Homo sapiens: one gene and its partner. The protein of the gene in region 1 interacts with the protein of each later gene in a pairwise test. Each region holds a gene or a part of one and is shown in the gene's direction. Other genes may lie near its edges.

Region 1 (7,167 bases):
GGTCAGGTGATTATTAAGAGGAACATAATAACTCTTCTTTGGTTAACTTTTTCATAATTATTTTGATTCTAAAGTTGATATAATATCACATGACAAATCTTTATTAAACCACGTGTTGAATTAAACTAAATCCATATCATAAATAGACTAGAAGTCTTCCAAGCAATTTTACCTTTTTTAGTGCCTCATTTTTTTTTGAGGCATTACTGTTGACTTTACATATGATTTAATTTTTAGCCACCACCTCAAATTTATGATGCCCAGTTGGAAGAAAGAGAACATGCAATTGAAGAATGGAAAGGTAAAGATGGAGCTTATTTTGATCCTTCCTTTTGACATTTCTTCCAATCCTGTAGAGCAGAGGCTTTTCATTTTGTGACATTTCCCTTCAGGAAGGGGCAAGAAACCCTGCGACCCACTTAGCCTCTTTCTCCCCAGTTTCCAGTAGAAAATGAACTTGAAGAGAACAGAGTTAGAGAGGAACATTTATGAATTTCTTATCATTTGCTTCAAGAGGGAAAAATAATATTTTTTTCATGGCTTTTCACATATTGATTTATAAACTGAGCTTAGTAATTGTATCATACTTATATTGATTGATATGTTTTTAAGCCATGTAGTTGTACATATGTTTTAAAATCTAGTTTGGGGGAAATTGCAGATTGAAAATATGCAAATAGGTATTATTACCACTATAAGATTAACCAAACAACCCACAACAAACTATACCTGTAATGAAGAGGTTGAACTAACAATTTTTCATTAAGAAGCAGGATCAGTAGTAACTGAGAACCACAGTCAGAGTCAGTCAACACTGATGAGGGTCATGCCCCAGGGCCATCCTGGGGTGTGGGAGTGCCGGTTACCTGTGTGTGCCCGTGCTCAGCAGTGCATGCACACAGCGTGCTCACTGGCCTCAGTCAATGCTCACTGGCCTCAGCGAATGCTTGCAACGTGCTAATGTTGGTTTATGAATACTGACATTTTAGGAATCCCTCATCACTTACTTCGTAGGTAATTAGTTTTTCTTACAGATGAAAGTTGAGGAAAACCGAAGTTGAAATTAAGAAAAGACTTAGGCCTGTGGATTCATTTCTGGCCAGTGTGGGGGGCTCCTAGCCCACATGTGGGTGCTGGTTACCTTTGGAGAACCCCAAGTAACCACATAGAGAAACATATTCAAATGGGTGTGAGAATATCCAATCCCCTACAGTGTTCTGTGGGAGCCACTCCACTTCATAAAGCCCCCTTATGGATCCAGAACCACCCTACATGTTTTGCTGCCTTACTAGTTGCATTGAAAAAGATGTAATGTAGTCCAGGCGCAGTGGCTCACACCTGTAATCCCAGGACTTTGGGAGGCCAAGTGGGGCAGATGGCTTGAGGCCAGGAATTCAAGACAAGCCTAGCCAACATAGCGAAACCCTGTCTCTACAAAAACTACAAAAGTTAGCCAGGCATGGTGGTGAACACCTGTAATCCCAGCAATTTGGATGGCTGAGGCATGAGAATCACTTGAATCCAGGAGGTGGAGGTTTCAGTGAGTCAAGACCATGCCACTGTACTCCAGCCTGGATGACAGCATGAGACTGTCTCAAAAAAAAAAAAAAAAAAAAGAAGAAGAAGAAAAGAAAAGATATAATGTATCAAAATATGAATATTTTGGTCCAGGTAGACTATATTACTGAATTGACTCTGTCTTACAATTAAAAATAACAAATCGCAATGCCTTTGTTCCAGTTGATTTGGAAGCAGAGTTTAGAGATACAGTGAAACTGTTTAGAAACTGATTAAGCATTTTAACTTGTATTTTTATTAAAGAGCTAATTTACAAAGAAGTCATGGATTGGGAAGAAAGAAGCAAGAATGGTGTTGTAAAAGATCAGCCTTCAGGTTAGTGATTGCTTTAATTGATTGTATGATATTTTTCTTTCCCTATTCAACTTTTTTTTTTTGAGACAGAGTTTCGTTCTGTCGCCCAGGCTGGAGAGCAGCGGCGCGATCTCTGCTCACTGCAACCTCCGCCTCCTGGGTTCAAGCAATTCTCCTGCCTCAGCCTCCCGAGTAGCTGGGACTACAGGCACGCGCCACCATGCCCTGCTAATTTTTGTATTTTTAGTAGAGACGGGGTTTCACCATATTGGCCAAGCTGGTCTCGATCTCCTGACCTTGTGATCTGCCCGCCTCAGCCTCCCAAAGTGGTGGGATTACAGGCACGCACCACCATGCCTGGCTAATTTTTGTATTTTTAGTAGAGACGGGGTTTCAGCATATTGGCCAAGCTGGTCTCGATCTCCTGACCTCGTGATCCACCCGCCTCAGCCTCCCAAAGTGGTGGGGTTACAGGCGTGAGCCACCGCACCTGGCGTCTTTCCCGATTCAACTTTTATAAATGGCAGCAACATGTGAAATGCCAGCCTGGCTAGCATCAGATTTAAAAACCGCTGTATGAATAGCCAGCCTTTTTGGCTTGTCATAGTGGTGGTGGTGGTGGATGACATTTTACTGATGTGCCAGGCACTGAACTTTGTTATAAGCATTTCTCTTTCATCTTTGCAATAACTGCTGTCACCTCCATTTACAGATGAAGAAATTGAATTTAAAGCCTTTTCAATGTTGATAACCCTTTGTACTGGTCCCACCCAAAATGCCAATCTAAGTAAAATGGAGTATGGTATTCTTTTTGAGAAAATTGTTGATATCATTTTCCCATTTTTCTGCTTGATCTACTGATCTTCATAGTGGTGGAAGCCTCTAATGACCAGGTAGTTGTATGATCATGAGACTCTGATATGAGTCGTGTTCACTTACGTCTGAAGGATTCTTCCTGTTTACTAAATGAAACGCTCACGTTATATCATTGTCTCTCTCCCACTCCCACTGGGAAGCATGCACACACATGTGTGCGGATGTGCAGAGAGCACAGCTTACTTTTTATTCTTGAATTTTATGTTCAACATGACGTATGTGTCAAGCATCTAGAGATTATATAACTTCAGCAAGAACTTAGGTGCTTGTTAACTGAGCACACACGTATGACTGCAGACGTCGATCTCAGAGAGTGCATGTTGTGTTTTTATTCAAACCAGACTAAAATATGGATAGTAGGAAGTAGGATAGTTTCATTTGCTTTAAAAGATTAAAATGTCAGTTTTCTGGAGTTATAAAACCATAAAATATACAAGGCCACTAATTTTTTTCCTTTTTCTGGTATATAGTCTTTATTTATTGCAAAAGATTTCTTTGAAAGTTGATGCTTTTTTTCCTGTAGATTTAGTGTTTATGTTATAAATTGTTACAATTCAAGTGTCTGGTGACACTGGAATCCTAGTCAGGCTTAAGCTTTTGTGATACTGCATTTTCAGATAAATATAGCTGTGTCCTTTTGATGTCTGCTTGAAAGCAGCAGGTATTTTTTAAGTAGCTAACATGATTATACATGGCCACATATATGTTTAGCTACTGAGAAAAAAAGAAGAATCTTGCAAGGAAAGACATAGGAATATGGGACTCTTGGCCCAAAGAAAGACTCAAGGAAAAGTTCAGAAAGTCCAGCTGACTGACTTCTTGTCTATACTCATAGTTAGGATTGGGAAACTGCAAAAGGACAGAGCCGAGAAATGGCCTGCAGTCTCGCTGCCTGGATTTGCAGCAATGTCGTGCCTCAGATTTTATTATATTTGGTTTTCTTAGCACAGATGCAGCAGTAAGTAGCAACGCCACTCCTTCTCAGTCTTCATCGATCAATGACATTTCATCCATGTCCACTGAGCAGACGCTGGCCTCAGACACAGACAGCAGTCTTGATGCCTCGACGGGACCCCTTGAAGGCTGTCGATGATAGGTTAGAAATAGCAAACCTGTCAGCATTGAAGGAACTCTCACCTCCGTGGGCCTGAAATGCTTGGGAGTTGATGGAACCAAATAGAAAAACTCCATGTTCTGCATGTAAGAAACACAATGCCTTGCCCTACTCAGACCTGATAGGATTGCCTGCTTAGATGATAAAATGAGGCAGAATATGTCTGAAGAAAAAAATTGCAAGCCACACTTCTAGAGATTTTGTTCAAGATCATTTCAGGTGAGCAGTTAGAGTAGGTGAATTTGTTTCAAATTGTACTAGTGACAGTTTCTCATCATCTGTAACTGTTGAGATGTATGTGCATGTGACCACAAATGCTTGCTTGGACTTGCCCATCTAGCACTTTGGAAATCAGTATTTAAATGCCAAATAATCTTCCAGGTAGTGCTGCTTCTGAAGTTATCTCTTAATCCTCTTAAGTAATTTGGTGTCTGTCCAGAAAAAGTCGATTTATGTGTATTAATTGGCCATCATGATGTTATCATATCTTATTCCCTTTTATGCTATGATTTATTCTATCTTTTGTATTTCAGAAGACATATAATTAAATCTATTTAATAAATAAAAATATATAGCTTTTCTTAGATTTGTGATGTTTGGGGCTGAGAATTATCACGGCTAAAACCAAGACACTTATGTGGACATCTTGTTTTCTTTAAACTGTCTTGTCTGGGATGATTGTACATTCAGCTTTACTGCACGATACAATTTTAAGTTTTGCTTAGTGCTGCTTGAAATCCTAGCTACCTTATCTCTTTTCTTCTTGGTCTTCTAGACTTCTTATGAATTTAAAATGCTACCTAGAACTTCACCTTCTTTATTAGGTGCGTAACACTCCATCTTAATTAAATATGATGGCAGATAGGTTCCTGCATCCATGGCCTAACGTTGGAGTGGAATTTTACAAAATGCTCACTAGAGATCACTGCAGTCATTTCCTAAGTGCTTCCTTTGCCACAGACTGGCCTGGGTCCTTTATTTACCTTCCCTCATTCACTTTCCCTCGGCCAATACCACGTTCTTGATTTTCTTTCTTCACTGGAAGAAAGCAGATAAACTCCTCTTTGGTCTGTTTTCAGAGGCCAGGCTGATTCAGATGCCTGTTGCTATTGTTGCTCTCCATTGTTGGGAGGCATTCCTTTTCACAAGAATGTTCTGGGAAACTCTTCAGAGGACGTGAAGGAAATACCCTGAAGAGTCATGATTAACTATTGACTATTTTCTGATTTAAAACTGCTCACCTGAAATTGATACTTTTAGACTTTACGATCAGTAAATTATTCAGAATTCATGAAGATGCTGAGTATGTTAAGTGTCACTGCAGGAACGGAGCTGTGGTGATCACGTTTTGCCTGCCTGTGCCCATGTCTCTTCCCTTGAGCTTATTCTGTTGCTGATTCATATCTTGTGTTCAATTATTTTGGAAGCTTTTCAGTCGACATTCTGTAGAGTGTGTTCTGAGGAGGAACTGTGATAAGAAAGTTTATTATAAATATTATGTAAAATATATGGCTCTCTCTGCACCAGTTATATCTTATTGGTTGGTCATATCACTGGAAACTGGAACCTTTGATTAGCAAAATTAATATTGAAATAAGAAATAGTTCTTTTATATTGTGTCATTTGGACACTTTCAAGTACAAAATGGTAATAATAACTTGGATTGAGGCGGAAACACCTATTTTATGGCTATCTATCTAAACATCTTAAAATGGCCTTCTCTGTAATACACTTTCTTTTAAAAGACTTCACTAAATCTATCTTTAAAAGGAAAAACAAAAGGGAGAGGTTGAAAATGCGCGAGCTGCCCTGCACTGTGTGATGCTCCCTCCCCGGGAGACGTGGACGGGGGACGAGGCACCCGCAGACGCCCTTCTGCTCACTCGCTCCTCTGTGCATTCAGCGAGCCACTTGCCACAGATGGAGCCCGTGACGGTGTGGAGGGTTTCCTGGAAAGGCCATCTTCCACCAGGTAGAGGCGAGCGTGCCTAGGACAGGCCACAGGGCTCCACAGAAATACCTCACCCCAGCTTCAGGGTTCTCTCTCCTGAGCCTAGATTTGCCAGGGTCTTGGTGCCACGCAAATGGTTTCAAACTGATCTCTATGGATAAATGCTGATGTTGGTTAAAGAACTGAAAAATGTGCTCAACTGTTTCATCTTTTCTATTTTATTTTTGTAATTTATATTGTACACAACCCAGGAAGTAACTATTTTGGACATGTATTTTTATAAACCAGGTAATTTACTATTATCCTGGAATTTAGACTAGGTTTGTTTCATTTGTTGACTTAGTTTCCAGCCAAGAAGGAAACGACTGTCTCCCCCATGTCCAGGTCTCAGTTTCAAGGGCAGAGTCCAGAGAGCAGACAGAGTTCTGTGAGAGCAGGAGAGCAGTCTGGAAACCCTGGCTGTGCATACCGTGTCAGCCGTGGGCCTGGAGATGGGAGCAGGTGAGACGCAGAGCCCCAGTACTGAGAGGAGGAAGCCCTCTTACAGGGCCCCTTGCCCACCCCAAGTCCGTGTCTGAAACACGGAGCGGGTGCTGCTTCAACCCGCATTTAATGCTGTGTAAGTAGCGATAACCACGTACGAGTCTGTCTGGTTGATTTCTAATGTGACTCCTCTGGTATTTCCTCCTGGTAATAAATACAAGTGTGACCTTTCAGATTGCATATCTCAAAAGTAACATTGCTAATGTTTTATAATAAAATATATTATGTGTGTTTTGGTTGGTGAAAATAATACAGACTACATTTTAAAAGATAAATGTATAGCATGTCCAATTTTTGTGTGTTTTTACATGGCAATTAGATATTTCTCCATCACCATCTCTGATGACAGATTTAACATGAACACAGATAGATGATAAAGTGTCATGCTTTTGATCAATATTAGCAAGAGGTTTCACACTGAGAGGCAGAAACATTGCTGTTTGTTCTCTTATTGAAAATATTCTGCAAATTCCTAAATCTGTGTTTTCAAAACTAATGGCAGTAAGTTTTGACTTCACCAATATGCAGGTCCAATTCAGAGTATTGGTGTAATTGTTTTCTCATGAGGCGTGGCCAGGAGAATTCACCAGTCAGCCTTAGTCATGTTACTTAACGTCATTCATGGTGCTTGTGGCTTTGTGCCTGGGATGAGCCAAGTTCATCTGACGTCTGTGTTTGAAGCACTTCAGGCTGTTTAGTACTTAATACCACAGGAGTGGAAGGACACTCAGTGGCTCACTTTCTTTTCTCTGCTTAAAAGGACTAGAAGCATTCCAGAGAGATGAGTACCAGCTGTGTGTGTGTGTGTGTG
Region 2 (7,000 bases), on another chromosome or scaffold:
GATGACATGCAAATGTATTATATACCTCAAACAGCATTACTATTAGCACAATTAATTGGCTTTAAAACTACCATTGAACAGTGACATATTTGGGGATTTCAGTCAGTAAAACAAATCGATTGTTTCTTATGTCACACTATATAATCTATGGTGTCTTTACCTTTCATCAAAAGTTGTTTTTTTATCAAGAACTTGACAGTGGGAGCCAGGCACGGTGGCTCACACCTGTAATCCTAGCACTTTGGGAGGGCTGATTGCTTGAGTCCAGGAGTTCAAGACCACCCTGGGCTTTCCACCATGGAAACCCTGTCTCTACAAAAAAATACAAAAAAATTAACAGGACATGGTGGCGTGCACCTGTAGTACCAGCTACTCGGGAGGCTGAGATGGGAGAGTCACTTGAGCCTGGAAGGCAGAGGTTGCAGTGAGCTGAGATTGCACCACTGCACTCCAGCCTGGGTGACAGAGCAAGACCCTGACTCAAAAAGCAAATAAATAAAAAAATCAAAAGAGACAATTAAAACTTATAATAAAAAAGAACTTGGCAGTGTAAGTCCTTCTTAGCCAACTAGAAAATTAATTTCTTTTTTTATGACTAATTTATTACCTGATTCAACCTTTAATTTTTTACTAAAAAAAGCTAACCAGTAATATTACATTGATACTTTTAACCTATCTTGATTGATATTAATTACCTTTTTTAATGTGTTTGTTTTGCTTATCTAGAAAAACACACCTTGACTTTAGTCAGATACATCACTGTCTGTTAAAGGAAACCAAGCGTGAAGTGGAAGTCTAACACATGAGGATACAGAATTGATTCAAAATGGGAACAACAAGTGATGAGATGGTGTCTGTGGAACAGACCTCCTCCTCTTCTCTAAACCCCCTGTGTTTTGAATGTGGCCAACAGCACTGGACAAGAGAAAACCATTTGTACAATTACCAGAATGAAGTGGATGATGACCTAGTCTGCCATATTTGCCTTCAACCTCTGCTGCAGCCACTAGACACACCCTGTGGACATACATTCTGCTACAAGTGCCTCAGAAACTTTTTACAAGAGAAAGATTTCTGTCCGTTGGACCGGAAAAGACTTCATTTTAAGTTGTGCAAGAAGTCTAGTATTCTAGTTCATAAACTCCTAGACAAATTATTAGTTTTATGTCCATTTTCTTCAGTGTGCAAAGATGTAATGCAACGTTGTGATCTGGAGGCACATCTCAAAAACAGGTAAGCAAAAAATATAAAAGAAGTAACTCCAGATTTTGGAAAAAGGTGGTTCAAATGAACATAAAAACTTGATTAAAACAAAACAAACCAGAGCACTAGTAAGTAAATGGGTGAATCAAGTACAGAAGAGATACAATAAATAAGTTGTATGGAACAGTATTTAACATTATTTATCAAAAACATGAATACAAAAACTACAGTGAGGAAGTACTGTTTTATACCTGTTAATATTTCTGCTGCTGTAATATGAAACTGATATATTCAAATAGATGACAGGATATTATGATAGATTCTTTCTATAAAGCAGTTTGGCAGTTTGTTTTTAAAAACTATATGAATGTAAATCTCCTTTTATCTAGTTTATTATCCTAAGGAAATAATCTAAAAGCAGGAAAAATTGTATGTAAATATGTTCAGTGCAACATTGTGCATAGTTTGGTAAATTGGAATCAGTTATTTAAAAGTAGGGAAGGGTTAAAAAATACTATGCACATAAACTCAGTGGGATATTATGCAGCCAATAAAAACGATAATTTTGTTGCAATATGGAAATAAATACATTATTTTATTTGCTAAGATCTTGTAAAGATTCTGGGTTCAGGGACTAGACTGAACAAGAATTAGGAGTTGGAAAACTAAATATTTAGTGGGGATTTCTGTTCTCATAAAAGCTTTTTAAAAGGTTAAGTAATTTATTTAGCTGATGAGTTTTATAATTTGATTTTGCTAAAAGACTTGATCTTTAACTTAGGAAGAGTTACAGTATACGTCATTTGTGTAGAATCACATAAAATGGCAGAAATAAATACTGGTTTCTAATTTCAAGTTAAGCCAGTTTTACAGTATAAATCTGCAGTAATCTCGATTGCTGTGAAAAACAATGCATACTACATCATACTGGACTTAGATGTAAGAGTGTAAGTCTGATATAGAATGGCTTGCTATTATACTCACACATAAAATCATAGACTTGAAGGAGATTATCTAATCCCCCTCATTTTATGAATAAGGAGACTGAGTCACAAAAATTTAGTTAATGCTGTAGTTAGACTCAAGCTTTACTGTTCTTGTTTACTATTCTAATAAACCATGTTGACTCTATCGTAGGTCAAGTCATGTTCTCTGCTGCTATGTAGCAAAAGTTTCATTCATGTGCACATGAAATACACATTCATTTTGTATCAATATATTGTTGATATTTATTTCTAAACATCAGAGTTAAGACATGAGAAACAATGAAAAAAACAAAGATGTTATTAAAATGTTGGAAACATTTAGATTTATAGAATGCTTAACTCTAAACTGTGTTGTCTAGAACTAGGAGGTAAGATAGAGTAGGATAGACAGACTTTTGAAAATGCGTGTAATAATGTAGCATTGCATTTTTTTATATCTTCTGTAACCAGCAAGCATAGAATCTGAACATGATGGCAGAGGCCTCCTGGAAACTGACACTGGTCTTTTGAATATACTAGTCTGAGTCAGGACTAGTTATGGCTGAAGAATATTTCAGGCTGCTTCTTTCAGTAGAACTGTTCTTTTCAGTGTATAGGCTTCTTTTCTAAACATCAGTTATGAGATGTTAGAGGAACTGAATGAAATGTCAGTTCAGTTATTTATGATTTTGAGAGCTGAAAGATAACAGTTTCACAGATTTTCAGGAATATTCCTTTAACATGCATTCAAGAATTTAATTTGCAGTTGAACTATTACTAGTGTTTCTTATCAAACCATTTATAATGAGAATGTAAAAAACCTTGGTAATTGCAAACTGCCTTTTCATTTACATGTTGGTAAAGGCTTATCCAGTTGAAGGTTTCATTTTCCAGCTGTGCTTATTAGTATTGAAGTAACCAATTTTATCATTTCTAAAGTATCTTAGGCCTGTAACATGAAAGATACAGTGAAAAGATGGATGATTGGAAAAGGTGGTGATTTGCCTGATACAGACAGCTAAGAGTGATTACTGAGTATATAAATGTAAAAAAATTATAAAATGTAATATGATTTTTATATGCCATTTGAACAGATAGTGATGAACAGCCTGACCTTTCTCTGTTCTCTTAAATAAGAACATTGAAATTCAGGTAGAAATGTATATTATACAACATTCAACCCTAAATAATATAGTTCATTTGTTTATTCAGCAAATATTGATTATCTGCTATGTGCCAGATACTTTTCTAGGTGTTAGGTAGTCTCTGCAAGTTAGAATCTAATGCCGGGTTGTAGATTCCTTTAGAAACAGAACCATGTCTTTATAGTCTTTCAGTTTATTTGCCCAAAGTTGACAGTCATCTCATGTTAGTCCAATTAAATTGTTGATCTGTGTTTCAGTTATTCATTGCTGAGAAACTAACCACCCCAGACACACTGACATAAAACAACAAGCATTTGTTGATTCTGTGAGTCAGGATGCAGACAGGATGAAACAGGGATGGCTTGTCTCTGCTATCTTTATGTGTGCCACAGCTGGGAAGGAGCTGAAAGCCAGGGACTGCAACAGTTGTAACTGGAGAGTCTACTTCCAAGATGGTTTCTTCATTCACATTTCTGACACCTTGATGGGAATGACTAGGTGCGTGGGACTTGTCAGCTGGAGAGGCTACAGGTAGCCTTCCCAGCATGACAGCCTCAGGGTATTTAAAGTTCTTACATAAGTGGTTCAGTGTCTAGTAGGCTGCATGGCCTCATATGATCTAGCCTTGAAGTTGCCTGGCATCCCTTCTCTGTTGGAAGCAGTCATAAACCCACCCATATCCAAGGAAAAGGGGACATAGGTTTCACCTTGTGATGGGAAGTCAAAAAAATTTGCAGCCATGTTCTAAAACCAACATAAACTAGCAAGAAGAATGATGTTATGCGGCGCAGAATATGATTACTACGACTGTTTGCGGCTTCTCGGTATACAAATCTCACTTGTTTGTTAGAAATTGGTAAGTCTGTAAGTTTCATTGAAATTCATAAGATTTTAGCATCAGCAACAAAGAGTCATTGTATAAAAGTTGCATGGCTGTCATGTGCCTTTGCTCTTGAGCTTTTAGGGTTTACAGGAATCTCTTAATTATTGGTAGAAATAGAGCATTAGCAGTAGTTTGCATAAATTTGATAATTTCACATTTAAGATCACCTTCCTATTTGAATGAAATCCTGCCCTTAACAAATGTGTTTTGATTTGAGAAGAGCAAACATTTTTCTCCTACAGATAAAATATTTATGAAAGATGAACATGTTTAAATAAAACTGCTATTTTTAACTGATTATGTATTAGTGAAATGAAGAATTTTAAGAGACATGGACAGTCTCTATCTTTGAACAGAGAAATAAAGCCTTTGAAAAATATTCTACATGTTGTACTAAATATGTAACATTTTGATTGTTTCTTTGAAATTCTGCCAAGCAACATCAGCTATATAGCATTCCTCCTACGCTCTACCACTCATCTCCAACCCACCCTTAACGATTTAACATTTAAGCCTTTGGTAATTGTAAGTGCTAGTTGTTGTTGTTGTTTTTAAATTGTGTGTTTGTGCCCTAGTTTATGGCAAGGTTCAGAATTACTTTTCCTCTTAAAAATTACAGTTTAATGCCATTATAAAAAGTTTACAATAGAAAACCTTTAAAGAAGCCTCTTTCCTTGCTGAGAACTTTTCTTGTTCATGAGATGGTTATGAAACCTTAAGTTCAAGTTTGTTCAGCCTGTGCCACATGCAGCCCAGGAAGGCTTTTGGGATTATTTTTTTTTTAAGCTTATCAGCTATCATTGATGTTAGTGTATTTTATGTGTGGACCAAGACAATTATTCTTCTTCCCGTGTGGCCCAGGGAAGCCAAAAGATTGGACAACCCTGCTTTAGATGATGGTCCAGGAAAAACTAAATAGAAAAAAAAGGGATCAGGATAGGCTGAGGCATGATTGCACTTTTAAATTCACACTTTAACTTGGAGGGAAGTTTGTGTTTAGCACATTCTTATCAGTATTGTTTTTTCATGTATGGTGTGAAAAAGCAGATATATGTATTTGCAAATCATGTGTATTCTAGTATCCAGAATATATAAAGAACTCTTAGAAATGAAAAGATAAATCCAATTTTAAATGGGCAAAGGATTTGAATAGATAGTTCTCCAAAGATACTCAAGTGGCCAGTAAGCACATGACATGCTCAACATCATTAGTTCATTTTTATATTGGATTATTTGTCTTTTTGCTAAGTTGTAAGAATTTTCTATGTATTCTGGATACTAGACCCTTACCAGATATATGATTTGCATATATTTTCTCCCATTCTGTCAGTTGTCTTTTCACTTTCCTACATCCTTTAAAGAACAAATATCTAATTTTTATGAAGTTCATTGTTGTTTGCTTATGCTTTTGGTGTCATATCTAAGAAAACATTGCCCAATTCAAGGTCACAAAAATTTACATGTACGTTTTCTTCTAAGAGTTTTCTAGTTTTCTCTCTTATAATTCAGTTTTTGATCCATTTGGAATTAATTGCAATGAGAAATCATAATGTGTATTGTTCAATCCTTTAAATTTTATTGAGGCCTTTCTTTTCTTTTTTTTTTTCTGGAGATAGCATCTCGCTCTGTCACCCAGGCTAGAGTGAAGCAGTGCAATCTTGGCTCACTGCAGCCTCCACCTGCTGGGTTCAAGTGACTCTTGTGCCTCAGCATCCGAGTAGCTGGGACTACAGGCGCACTCCACCATGCCCAACTAATTTTTTTTTTTTTTGTGCTTTTAGTAGAGACGGGGTCTTGCCATATTGCACCAGGCTTGTCTCAAACTCCTGAGCTCAGGTGATCCTCCACCTAGGTCTCCCGAAGAGCTAGGATTACAGGCGTGAGCCACCATGCCCAGCCTTGAGGCCTTTTTTAAAATGGCCTAGCACATGGCCTGTCTTGGAAAATGTCCTGTGTGTACTTGGGAATAATGTAAATTCTGCTGTTAATGGATGGAGTGCTCCATATGTCTATTGGGTCTAATTGGTCTATAGTGTTAAAGGGTCTATTTTCTGGTTCCATGTCTAGTTGTTCTGTTAGTATTGAAAGTCGAGTATCAAAAGCTTTATTGTTGATTTGTCTATTTCTCTCTTTGTCATTTTTTACTTACGTATTTTGGGGCCATTGTTTGGTACAATTTCTGTTTATAATTGTCATATCTTGTTATGTTTTTCTGTCTTTTGCTTTATTTATGTCTTTGAATCTGAAGTGTGTCTGTTGTAGACAGTTGGATTATGTTTCTTGTAGCCCATTCTGCCAGTCACTGACTTTTTATTGGGATGTTTCATTCATGTAATTTAATGTAATTACTGATAAGGTAGGCTTTACATTTGCCATTTTGCTGTTTGTTTCTATATGTCTTATTTCTTTTTTCCTCCATTTCTTCCATTTGTGTTAAATATTTTTAATATGCTATTTTAATTCCCGTGTCATTTCTCTTAATTAAAATTATTTTCTTAGTGGTTACCCTGGGGCTTACAATTAACATCCTAGTTTATAGCAGTCTATTTTAAATGAATACCAGCTTCATTTTCACTAATGAATTAGTCAGGGATCTGTAAGGAAATAGAACCAATATATGAGGAGTTGGCTGACATGATTAAGGAGTCTGAAAAATTACACGTTCTGCTCTCTGCACGCTGGCAACCCAGGGAAGTCAGTAGCATAATTCAGACCTTCTCAGTCAGAAGGTCTGAGAACTAGGAGAGCCAGTGATCCCAGTCTGAGGGCAGGAGATGAGATGTCACAACTCAAGCAGTAAGGCA

What was found. Proteins that work in one complex are often made in the same cells at the same time.
Region 2: the proteins of MAPK9 (region 1) and LNX2 interact in binary tests that used the Homo sapiens proteins (3 or more experiments, as listed by UniProt).

The regions. Positions count from the first base shown.
Region 1 is NC_000005.10:180,233,058-180,240,224, reverse strand, and holds the end of MAPK9 (mitogen-activated protein kinase 9), read left to right. Parts: intron 1-237; coding exon 238-301; intron 302-1,821; coding exon 1,822-1,893; intron 1,894-3,693; coding exon of another isoform or gene 3,694-3,698; coding exon 3,699-3,841; 3' UTR 3,842-7,082; downstream 7,083-7,167. UniProt on the Homo sapiens protein: Serine/threonine-protein kinase involved in various processes such as cell proliferation, differentiation, migration, transformation and programmed cell death.
Region 2 is NC_000013.11:27,575,530-27,582,529, reverse strand, and holds part of LNX2 (ligand of Numb protein X 2), read left to right. Parts: intron 1-726; 5' UTR 727-826; coding exon 827-1,233; intron 1,234-7,000.